Linked DNA regions of Homo sapiens: region 1 is reported to be linked to region 2. Evidence: microRNA targets listed by miRTarBase, many of them from high-throughput screens and not tested one by one. Region 2 holds a microRNA gene; the other region holds the end of a gene's coding sequence.
The links. Region 2 holds the annotated microRNA hsa-miR-6841-5p (UAGGGUACUCAGAGCAAGUUGU, at 2,688-2,709, shown strand). A microRNA usually pairs through its seed, bases 2 to 8, with sites in the 3' UTR of a target mRNA and lowers its output. Matches are read on the target gene's strand: a 7mer-m8 pairs with bases 2 to 8, a 7mer-A1 pairs with bases 2 to 7 and ends in A, and an 8mer does both.

Region 1 (5,000 bases), not on the chromosome of region 2:
TCACCTTTCTGGGGGTCCCTGAAGGTAGGAATGGAGTCTGTGAACTGGTGTCAGTATTTCTCAAAGCCAGCTGTCAGACACTGTGTCTGTCCCTGACGCGGCCGCCCAGGCTCGTGGAATGCCAAGCGCCTGTCTCTGCTCGGGGCTGACATCACCTCCGCGTGGGAACAGAGCCTGTGCTCATGCCGAGCTCATCGGGATTGGCAGAAATCTGCATCCTTGTTTGGTTTCAAAACAGGGGGCCCAGAAGGAAGACTCATGAAAGATGCCCTTGTCGGCGGAAATTTCAGGAGCTTGGCCCACAGCCCCTGTCTGCACTTCGGCTGTGAAGAGGCCAGAACCACGCCCGCTGCCCAAGAGCTAGGCTCTGATGAGGCTGCAGGTAGCATCGACCCGGTACCTGCTTCCACCAGGGCCCAGGCTGAGCCCTCATGGCACAAGGGTGCCCATAGGCGTGTGGTGGATGGGTGGACATCTCGGCTAACGCTCCCGTCACCTGTACCTGTCTCCCCATCAGTAGGGCAGGGGCAGCTCTCACTTCTCACGGCTATGGCCACTCGATGTGTTCAGCAATCTAAGTGGGTCGTCGCCTCATTTTGTACATGAAAAACCAGCCCAAGTTACTGCCCAAGGTCACACGGCCATTCCCTCTGTCCCTTCCTCCCTGACTCATGCCATGCTTGTGTGAGGGGCTGCTGCGTGCCTGGCTGGGACCTAGTGGAATAAGAGAGAAAGCCCTTGCTCCCGTGGAGCAGGCGAGAGGCGACACGGATACAGGCTGAGAGTGAGTGACCCATGGAGGAAACAACAGGGAGACGGGCAGGGGGCGGTGGGGTGGGGGCCAGGGAAGGGCTCTTTCCAGAGGGGGCATCTGTGCTAAGACCTGAGGGACAAGAAGGAACTAGCCCCGCAAACAACACAATCGGGTGCTTTTCCCTTTGATGTCTGAGCAGCCTGGAGTCGCTCCAGACAGGCCCGGCTGCCCCCACTGCCACTGGCAGGAACATCCCGACACGGGCATCGTGGGGAGCCTGCTCTGCAGCTCCGCTCCTGGCTCTGCTGCCAGCTCCCAGCTCATGAGAGAATGAGACGACCAGACCAGGACGGTACAACTCCTAGTGAGGATGGCTCACGGGTGCTGCGGCGCCCTCAGACCACCTGCCCCCGTCCTGGGACAACGGGATTTCTGAGGGCCAGGACCTCCGTCAAGCCAGCAACCTAGCTGGGTTTTGGGAGAGACTGATGTCTTTTTTTTTTTTCTTGAGACAGGGTCTCGCTCTGTCGCCCAGGCTCTGGAGTGCAGTGGTGCTATCTTGGCTCACTGCAAGCTCCGCCTCCCAGGTTCACGCTATTCTCCTGCCTCAGCCTCCAGAGTAGCTGGGACTACAGGTGCCCACCACCACATCCGGCTAACTTTTTTTATTTTTAGTAGAGACAGGGTTTCACCGTGTTAGCCAGGATGGTCTCGATCTCCTGACCTCATGATCTGCCTGCCTTGGCCTCTGAAAGTGCTGGGATTACAGGCCTGAGCCACCGCGCCCGGCCGAGACTGATGTCTTTAAGGAATGAGTGGGCAGGAGGTGGGGGATGGGCTTCTCTGGTTCCATCTGATCCTGCCTCAGTGCTTTCCCCACGGAGGCTATGGGAGGCAGACAGGCTGGAGAGGGCCACTTTGGCCCACCTTGTGTCAGACGCCACCTGGGGACGTGGACGGTGGCAGTGACCCACCAGGGCTGCACAGCTTCGCCTCGCTGTGCCATTCACTTTCCTTACCTTGACTCCTGGCCCCTTAAGTCCTCAAACCCATTCCCGAGCTTCCCCTCTTAGATGAAACAGTGTCCCTCTCACCTTCATTTCCCTCCAGGAGACAGGCTCAAGTGCAGTAAGTAACACCAAGGCTGGGGACAGGGGACATAAAGTCAACAGTGCAGCGCCCGGCCCCACACGCTTAGGGCAGAGCAGGTGCTGGGAGAGACCTGGGGCCCAGAGTTGCATGGTGGCCACTTGTGACCAGGACTGTGCCTGAACCTGTCTGTGCCTCAGTTACTCACCATGTCTCTCTCTCTCTCTCGGGTGGCAGGGCTGACACCAAAGCTCCAGGAGTGTTCAGGGGCCATGGTGGTCCTCAGGACCCCTGGCGGCTCGGCTGGGGAAGCTGAGAAGGACAGATCCTGGAAGGAAGCTCCGCAGGCACAGCCCCTGCCCAGCAGAGTGGAGGGGGGGACATCCGGGACCCTCTGACCACACCAGACAGAGAGTGGCTTTGTTCCTAAGCAGATGCACTGTTTCGGTTTCTGTTGCAGAGGCTCTTCTTAGAGGGATGAGTTCTTACGTCCCAGAAAGCAGGATGAAGTGCTCTATGGACTGGTATTTATAGAAGATCCTTCCCCAAAGCAAAACCCAGTAAAGCAAACTAGCTGGCAAGAGGGCAAGGCCTCCGCCCTGGTGACCTGAGCACCGGGTGGCCACAGCACCACTCACACACCAAGACCCTAGGCTCACTCTCAGCAGAGTGGAGTTGGCACCACAACCCTGCCACTGGCCATGGGCCAGAGGGCTTGGCCTGCAGCAGGGAAAACTGTCACCCCCTTCAGATGTGCATGAACACATCTGGGTCCGAGAGTGGGCCTGGGAGGTAACAGGCAAGCCATGTTTCCCCGGGGCTGTGGGGGCGGCAGCATGGAATGCAGCCAGAAGGCCTGGGTTCAAATCCCAGCCCTGCCACTTAGCAGCCTGGCGAGCCGAGTTCTTGAACCTCCAGGGCAGTGAAGAGGGGAGGCGTCCACTTCCCAGGGCCACTGCGAGTTACAGGAAACATGAGCAACAGCGCTATTAATATCACAATGTGTAATGCCACCATTTATTACTTCTTTACTACATTAAAAAAGTGACCCTGTTTCTAGAGACCAAACAGCACCACAGAGGCATTCTTGGAAGAGAATTCCTTTTGTTCCCAAGCCTTTGTGACTGACTTTAAATCCTCTCACCTGCAGAACAGAGATGGCTTCAAAGTGGGGAGTGAGGGAGTGAGCGAGGACCCTGGGCTGAGACCTGTTTTTCTTCCATTTCTGCTGTGGCTTCCCACAGCTCCCTGGTTCCACACCAGGCCCTGCTCTGCCGCAGGAAAATGGATTCCCAGGCCACAGAGCTGTCAGGCCTTTGACTTCGCAGAGACCAAGCACCCCAGAGGCTGTGCGACAGCGGCTAGTCCCTGGTGGGCCGGTCTGGGGCATGGGGGGCAGGGAGACTGGGAGATGGGGAGGGCGTGGAGAATCCGGGGGGTCCTGGATACTGACAAAATGGCTCAGGTCTGAGCTCTGGCTGCCCCACTGATTGTGTGGCTTGGCCAAGGTGCAAGTCTCTCGGCCTGCTTCCTCTGAAACAGGAGTGGCAATCCTGGCCGACAGCCCTGGTGGCACCCCCTCCCCACTGAAGGCAGAGAACATGTGGGAAATAGTCTAACTCAGGCCCTGGGCTGGGCTGGCCCGACCCTTCTCCTATGCCTCCCAGGGTACTGTGTCTCAAAGAACCTCTTCCCTCCTGGAACCATTTTCCACTCCTCTTTCTTTCAAACAAGTCCCCCAGCCTGACTCACAACCCCTGCTTGCTACCCTCAGCCGGCAGAGGCCCCTCATCAGTGGTAAAGACAGTTCATCTCAGCTGCCTGCCAGCCTATGGTCTTCACAGCACCAGAAGGAAAATGCAAGGCAGGCACCAGCTCACCCTGGCTCAGGCCTGACGACAGCGGCCCCTGCCTCAGCCCACCGGGGCCAGTCCTCACCTCTCCCGCACGCCTGGCTCTGGGGAAGCCCAGGCCGCCATCCTCTGGCAGTTCCAGGTCTCTTAGACCACTTCCCCCTGGCTCCTTTCCACCTGGCCTGCCCCTTCTGTGGCCATCCCAGGCCCCAGATGCTGCCCTGGTCCTCCTGAACGTTTACAACAGATGACACAACCAAGGCAGGTCCAGGGGTGGGGCCCAGGGACAGATGCGGACACCAGCCTGGGTTCCACTCTGGATGCAGGAGCACAGGGCTGAGAGGCTGGAGAAGTGGAGGGCTACTGTCCCGAGGTGAGGGAGGTGATGGTGGGAGGAGGGGTGGGCTTGGGACAGCAGGGTCTGCTGGGCCTGCAACACTCAGGGTTCACAGGGCGCCTCTTCCTGCTCTGTAGGAGGCTGCTGGGGAGGCTCGGGCGGCTTGCAGGCCCACTGCGGTTTCTATACCTGGCCCTCTGCTCTGAGAAAGGGCGATGGTCCTGGCTGAGGCCATCTGGGAGGAAGTGGCCTTCAGCTTCCCGGGTGGTGACAAGGTATGAACCACAGGTCCAGTCTGCACTCACACACTCTACTGCCCGGAGAGCCATGGGACAGAGTCTGCTGTGGGCAGAGGATGGGGCACCTGCTGGCCGTTGTGGCACAGGCAGATGTTAGGAAAAGGCTGGACCCTGTCCTGCCCCATGCCAGGCCCTGCTTGGGCTGCATTCTCCGGCTGCCCTACGGTGCTGTCACCACGCTCTGCTCGCCATGGTCCACGCTCCAGAGGCGGTAAAACTCAGCAAAGTCCACATAGGGCTCAACACGACCGTCCTCGCCAGGCGGGAGCGAGTGGGCGGGCCGGGAGCGGAAGAGGCCTCCGTCAGAGCTGGAGCTGCTGCTCTGCGTGTGCGTGTTGGTGGACTGCAGGGTTAAGGTCGGGCTTTGGCTGCAGGACAACAGGGGAGGGAGTCAATCAGAAGCAGCCGGGTCAAGGGGCCTGGGGCAGAGTGGGGACAGAATGGCCCCTGCCTCTACCAGCCTCTTGGGCCACAGGCCTTTCTGGCAGAGGTGACCATAGGAGCTGGCCCAGCCAGATGATCTTAGGAACAGATAAAAAGTCAAATTTTAAAGCACCAGATGCATGTGGCTACTTAAATGAACTAAAGGTAAAGAAAATGGGGCTGGGCGCGGTGGCTCATGCCTGTAATCCCAGCACTTTGGGAGGCCAAGACGGGTGGATCACCTG
Region 2 (5,517 bases):
GCCGCCGCGGGCCGGGGAGCCACCGGCCGCCACCATGAGTTCCTTCAGCTACGAGCCGTACTACTCGACCTCCTACAAGCGGCGCTACGTGGAGACGCCCCGGGTGCACATCTCCAGCGTGCGCAGCGGCTACAGCACCGCACGCTCAGCTTACTCCAGCTACTCGGCGCCGGTGTCTTCCTCGCTGTCCGTGCGCCGCAGCTACTCCTCCAGCTCTGGATCGTTGATGCCCAGTCTGGAGAACCTCGACCTGAGCCAGGTAGCCGCCATCAGCAACGACCTCAAGTCCATCCGCACGCAGGAGAAGGCGCAGCTCCAGGACCTCAATGACCGCTTCGCCAGCTTCATCGAGCGCGTGCACGAGCTGGAGCAGCAGAACAAGGTCCTGGAAGCCGAGCTGCTGGTGCTGCGCCAGAAGCACTCCGAGCCATCCCGCTTCCGGGCGCTGTACGAGCAGGAGATCCGCGACCTGCGCCTGGCGGCGGAAGATGCCACCAACGAGAAGCAGGCGCTCCAGGGCGAGCGCGAAGGGCTGGAGGAGACCCTGCGCAACCTGCAGGCGCGCTATGAAGAGGAGGTGCTGAGCCGCGAGGACGCCGAGGGCCGGCTGATGGAAGCGCGCAAAGGCGCCGACGAGGCGGCGCTCGCTCGCGCCGAGCTCGAGAAGCGCATCGACAGCTTGATGGACGAAATCTCTTTTCTGAAGAAAGTGCACGAAGAGGAGATCGCCGAACTGCAGGCGCAGATCCAGTACGCGCAGATCTCCGTGGAGATGGACGTGACCAAGCCCGACCTTTCCGCCGCGCTCAAGGACATCCGCGCGCAGTACGAGAAGCTGGCCGCCAAGAACATGCAGAACGCTGAGGAATGGTTCAAGAGCCGCTTCACCGTGCTGACCGAGAGCGCCGCCAAGAACACCGACGCCGTGCGCGCCGCCAAGGACGAGGTGTCCGAGAGCCGTCGTCTGCTCAAGGCCAAGACCCTGGAAATCGAAGCATGCCGGGGCATGAATGAAGCGCTGGAGAAGCAGCTGCAGGAGCTGGAGGACAAGCAGAACGCCGACATCAGCGCTATGCAGGTGCGGCACGGCCAGAAACACAGGGGGGCGGGGGACTCGAGCAAGGGGGGGAGTTGGTGCGCCCAGAAAGTGGAGACCAGGGGTGGTGCGGCTGCACGCAGCTCTTAGGGATAGGGCTTGGCTCCTTGGCCACTGTGTGGGAGGGGTGGGGCACTTGAAGGGCGTGAGTGCGGGCGCCACTGTAGTCTGGGAGTGTGCTCCGTGCTGCTGCACCGGCGTTCCGCATTAAAGCTGCCCAGCCCTTGTTGGGTGGGGGAGGGGAAGACGTGGGAATTGGGCGTTGCCTCCGGCCTGCAGTGAGATCAGCTCTCTACTGACCTGCATTAACCACAAGTTACTTTGCAGCAACTATCGGATCATCTAGTTAATAAATAGTAGAGTGAACAACTCTCAATTAATTCTGAAGGATTACTGTGACCAGCATGCTTTATGACTAGTTTTACCAACCACTCCCTTCCTTTATTTAGTAGGTAGACAGGAAAATAGTCAACATTGTTTTAGGTAGTTAACTAGTGATGTTCATAGTAAACCATTTCCTTTTACCTTTTTTTTTTCTTTTTTTCTTTATGTGTAAAATCTTCTACAACATTTCTGTTTAAACATCTCCATCTTCTGGGGAGTAGAAAAAATACAATTTTAAAAAGATCTCCATTTTAAAACATCTCCATCTTCTGGGGAGTAGAAATTTTTTTCTTCTTCTGGGGAGTAGAAAAAATAATTTAGATACATAGGAAATATTTCATAGAAAATAATTTTTTTCTTTTTTTTGTTTACATCTGGCTATTTTCTTCTCATAAAGAAAGGCATTAGTTTCCTGGCATGTAACCCAGCTAAAGAAGAGTTAATCAGTGAATGAGAGACACAGTTTTTCTATCAACTTAGTCTGTTTGCATGCATTTTATGATGATCATTAAACAGTATTAAGTAAAGAAACAGAAGAACAGAATTTTCGTCCATCTTTTTTTTCATCTCAGGCTTCATGAACTTGGGTATTTTAGGCATGAAGGTTTTTCAAAAGATACAGGAAGTTATTCTAGGAGAGATTTTATCAAAGGTGTGCACCTTGATTTTAATCGAAACTAGGCCTTTGCAACTACACTACAGTAAAATAATAGAAGGGATTTATGCTCGGATTTTTTTTTTGTTTTATTTTTGTCTTCAAACAGGACACGATCAACAAATTAGAAAATGAATTGAGGACCACAAAGAGTGAAATGGCACGATACCTAAAAGAATACCAAGACCTCCTCAACGTGAAGATGGCTTTGGATATTGAGATTGCAGCTTACAGGTGAAAATAGAGGGGCAAAGACAGCAGCCATTAAACCTTAGGAAGAAAATCAGATCCCATTTAAAGTTATGTTGGATCAGAAACCTTCAATAATAGTCCTTTTGAAATAATGAAGTGTTAGTTTTTGGCTTCTTCCAAGAAGAGGGTATTTAGATATATAAGAATTTAACCCTGTAATTAGGAGTCCTGTTTTTATCTTGTCATTACACTTTAAATCTAATAGGATGATTTATTTATATTTTTTCTGGTCTCCATCAAAAGATCCCCAGGCATTAAGTATTGATAAATCCCAGCCCTGCTCCTGCTTGCCTTTGTGTTTAGGGTACTCAGAGCAAGTTGTGAAACACAGGTGTTTTTTAACCTCACCTTGCATCTGCATCCCCAGGAAACTCTTGGAAGGCGAGGAGACCCGACTCAGTTTCACCAGCGTGGGAAGCATAACCAGTGGCTACTCCCAGAGCTCCCAGGTCTTTGGCCGATCTGCCTACGGCGGTTTACAGACCAGCTCCTATCTGATGTCCACCCGCTCCTTCCCGTCCTACTACACCAGCCATGTCCAAGAGGAGCAGATCGAAGTGGAGGAAACCATTGAGGCTGCCAAGGCTGAGGAAGCCAAGGATGAGCCCCCCTCTGAAGGAGAAGCCGAGGAGGAGGAGAAGGACAAGGAAGAGGCCGAGGAAGAGGAGGCAGCTGAAGAGGAAGAAGGTATGATAAGAAAAAACCCCTGCAACTTCAAGTGTAAACTGGGTGTGGAGATTTGTTAGGAGGTGGATAAGACAAATGAAGCCTTGCTCATTTATTCATATATGACATTAGAATCATAAATAAATTTTCTGTTTGTTTAGCAAAACTTTCCTAAGGCATCTACTCTGAATGAGGTGATTGGTCAAAATTTTCATTTTTTAATATAATCATTTAACACAGCAGGTTGGTGTCCTAAAGAACAAAAATAGATACCAGACACATAATGAAAGAAATATTGAGGTTAAGTCTTGGAGAGGAGCAGAGCTTCCCATACCTAGAAGTGATCTCATTCGATTTAAATATGTGTTCAGTGGCAAATTATTCATGGCAAGCTTTGTCTGTTACATGTGCTTTTGGAGAGAGTGGAGCTGGGAGGTTTTGGTAGCATTCTGACAGTTGTGTTTGCAAATAAAACCTTTGCAGACATGTTTTGACTGGACTTACCCTGGATTTGCATTTTGTACATTTTCTTTTTATGTTAAAGCTGCCAAGGAAGAGTCTGAAGAAGCAAAAGAAGAAGAAGAAGGAGGTGAAGGTGAAGAAGGAGAGGAAACCAAAGAAGCTGAAGAGGAGGAGAAGAAAGTTGAAGGTGCTGGGGAGGAACAAGCAGCTAAGAAGAAAGATTGAACCCCCATTTCCTTAATTATTTCAGGAATAATTCTCCCGAAATCAGGTCAACCCCATCACCAACCAACCAACCAGTTGAGTTCCAGATTCTATGTGAATTAAAAAGTCAATATATGTATAATTCTGAGATGACTTAGGTTGGACATTCAATGTTGTGCTATGAATTTCCTCTTTATGCAGAGTATCTGTTTGCTTGCAGAGTGGCTTTCTGGCTTGCTGCCAGCCTGTGCATGGACCACGCTTATGAGTTCAGGATCTACGGCAATGTGAATCATTCAGATGTTTACAATAAAAAACACCACATGAGTAAATGAATTCACTAATGTTAATGTTAAACTTCATGGAAAAATAGTCCTTTGAACCTTCGGTGGTTAGCAATTAAAGACCCTGAGTTATGTGCAATAAATAGTAAATAAAGTTATACCGAATGATGTATTTTTTGCTGTGGTTGTTACTTAATTAAAATACCTTAAAGATGGCACCAATATAAAGTATATACCAGTGGACTATTGACCTCCAATTTTTTAAAAAGTTGAAATTTTAACAATTACCAATACTTTTTTTTCTTCCTTCAATTGGAAATTCTGAGGGATACAGTTATGTCATGATTACTTGTGAAATCTCTCCCCACAAAAATTTTACTGATAATAAACATGAGTAAATGAGAAAGTCTATAAATAACAATAGACTTTGCCTCATAACACGTGTTGTGTTAGGTTTTGGGATGGCTTTCTAGGGAGCAATTCTGAAATTACTTGACAGATACACTCTTTATGGTAAACAGGTCATTTCAGAGTCTAGAGTGCTAACCATTACACTATGGAACCATGATAAATAGGTCATTTCAAACTGATATGTCACAATGCAATATGGATAGAATATGAATCCCATACATTCATCCCTATAACTGCATTTTAAAATATAGTCTAAATATCATGGGAGGAGGTTAAAACCTGAGAACATGGTACAATAAGAAGGAATAATTTTTTATCTATATATAATTTCAGGAGAAGGGATTAAAACTACCAAAGGTTATTTGCCACTCCACTGCAAACATGTTGCCTGCAATCCTGAGCTCATGATTTAGTGTGTTGTTAAGCGTAATTCTGTTGCCTCAAGTAAATACCACTTAATGCTACACATTTTTAAACCTTTAAAAGCTACAGACACAAGTAATGAAATTATGAGTCACTTAAGGGGGGAGGTAATATGCTTGTATGTTACATTGACATTGCTCTGCATGTCTCTACTGGGAGATATTTGGATTTCAATGATAGCTTGACTGGTTGGACATTGCATCAAATACACGCCCCATGTATCCTTTCTGTCGTAAAGTTAAGAACGCTCTTGCATTTGATGTGGAATAAATATAGATGATATTACTATCTGCTATTCTGCCTTTGTTCTGAAACAATTGCTTTGTCAGCTAATTTCATTCAATATTTGTTTTTTAGACGATCTCTATAAGTTATTAATTTAACCTGAAACCAAAGTGGTCTCCATTTAAAGTTACTTAATCCCTTTGTACCACCTATTTCTAGTTAAATATATGTTGCTATGCAAATAGGTAAAGTGCTTCCTTGCCATGATGGTAATGGATTGGAACTATGAAGGCTCTCAGTGTATTGGCTTCTGTAAAGATGAGGCGTCTCCTCAGAAACAAAACTTTTCACATTTCTGCTTACTAGACCTGGGTTGATGTACATGGTAAGTCTCAAACAGATGCAAGCTATGTGCAAAAAGTAACTTTAGCCAAATGGAAATAGCTGGATGCTTT

Region 1: the mRNA of TAB1 is a reported target of hsa-miR-6841-5p. Seed matches in the 3' UTR shown: 7mer-m8 at 3,509-3,515.

What each region holds. Positions count from the first base shown.
Region 1 is chr22:39,429,715-39,434,714 of GRCh38, reverse strand. TAB1 (TGF-beta activated kinase 1 (MAP3K7) binding protein 1) reads right to left here. Exons shown (of 11, transcript NM_006116.3): 11 at 2,833-4,700. The coding sequence ends at 4,493. LOC100506472 (a long non-coding RNA gene) reads right to left here and starts at 2,555. Exons shown (of 4, transcript NR_040535.1): 1 at 2,052-2,555; 2 at 1,849-1,898; 3 at 1,479-1,486; 4 at 1-590. RefSeq lists enhancers at 1-483, 484-1,202.
Region 2 is chr8:24,951,033-24,956,549 of GRCh38, reverse strand. It overlaps MIR6841 (microRNA 6841), which reads left to right and starts at 2,683; the gene lies at 2,683-2,754. NEFL (neurofilament light chain) reads left to right here. Exons shown (of 4, transcript NM_006158.5): 1 at 1-1,078; 2 at 2,245-2,369; 3 at 2,755-3,074; 4 at 3,598-5,517. The coding sequence starts at 35. The coding sequence ends at 3,740. RefSeq lists an enhancer at 1,188-2,387.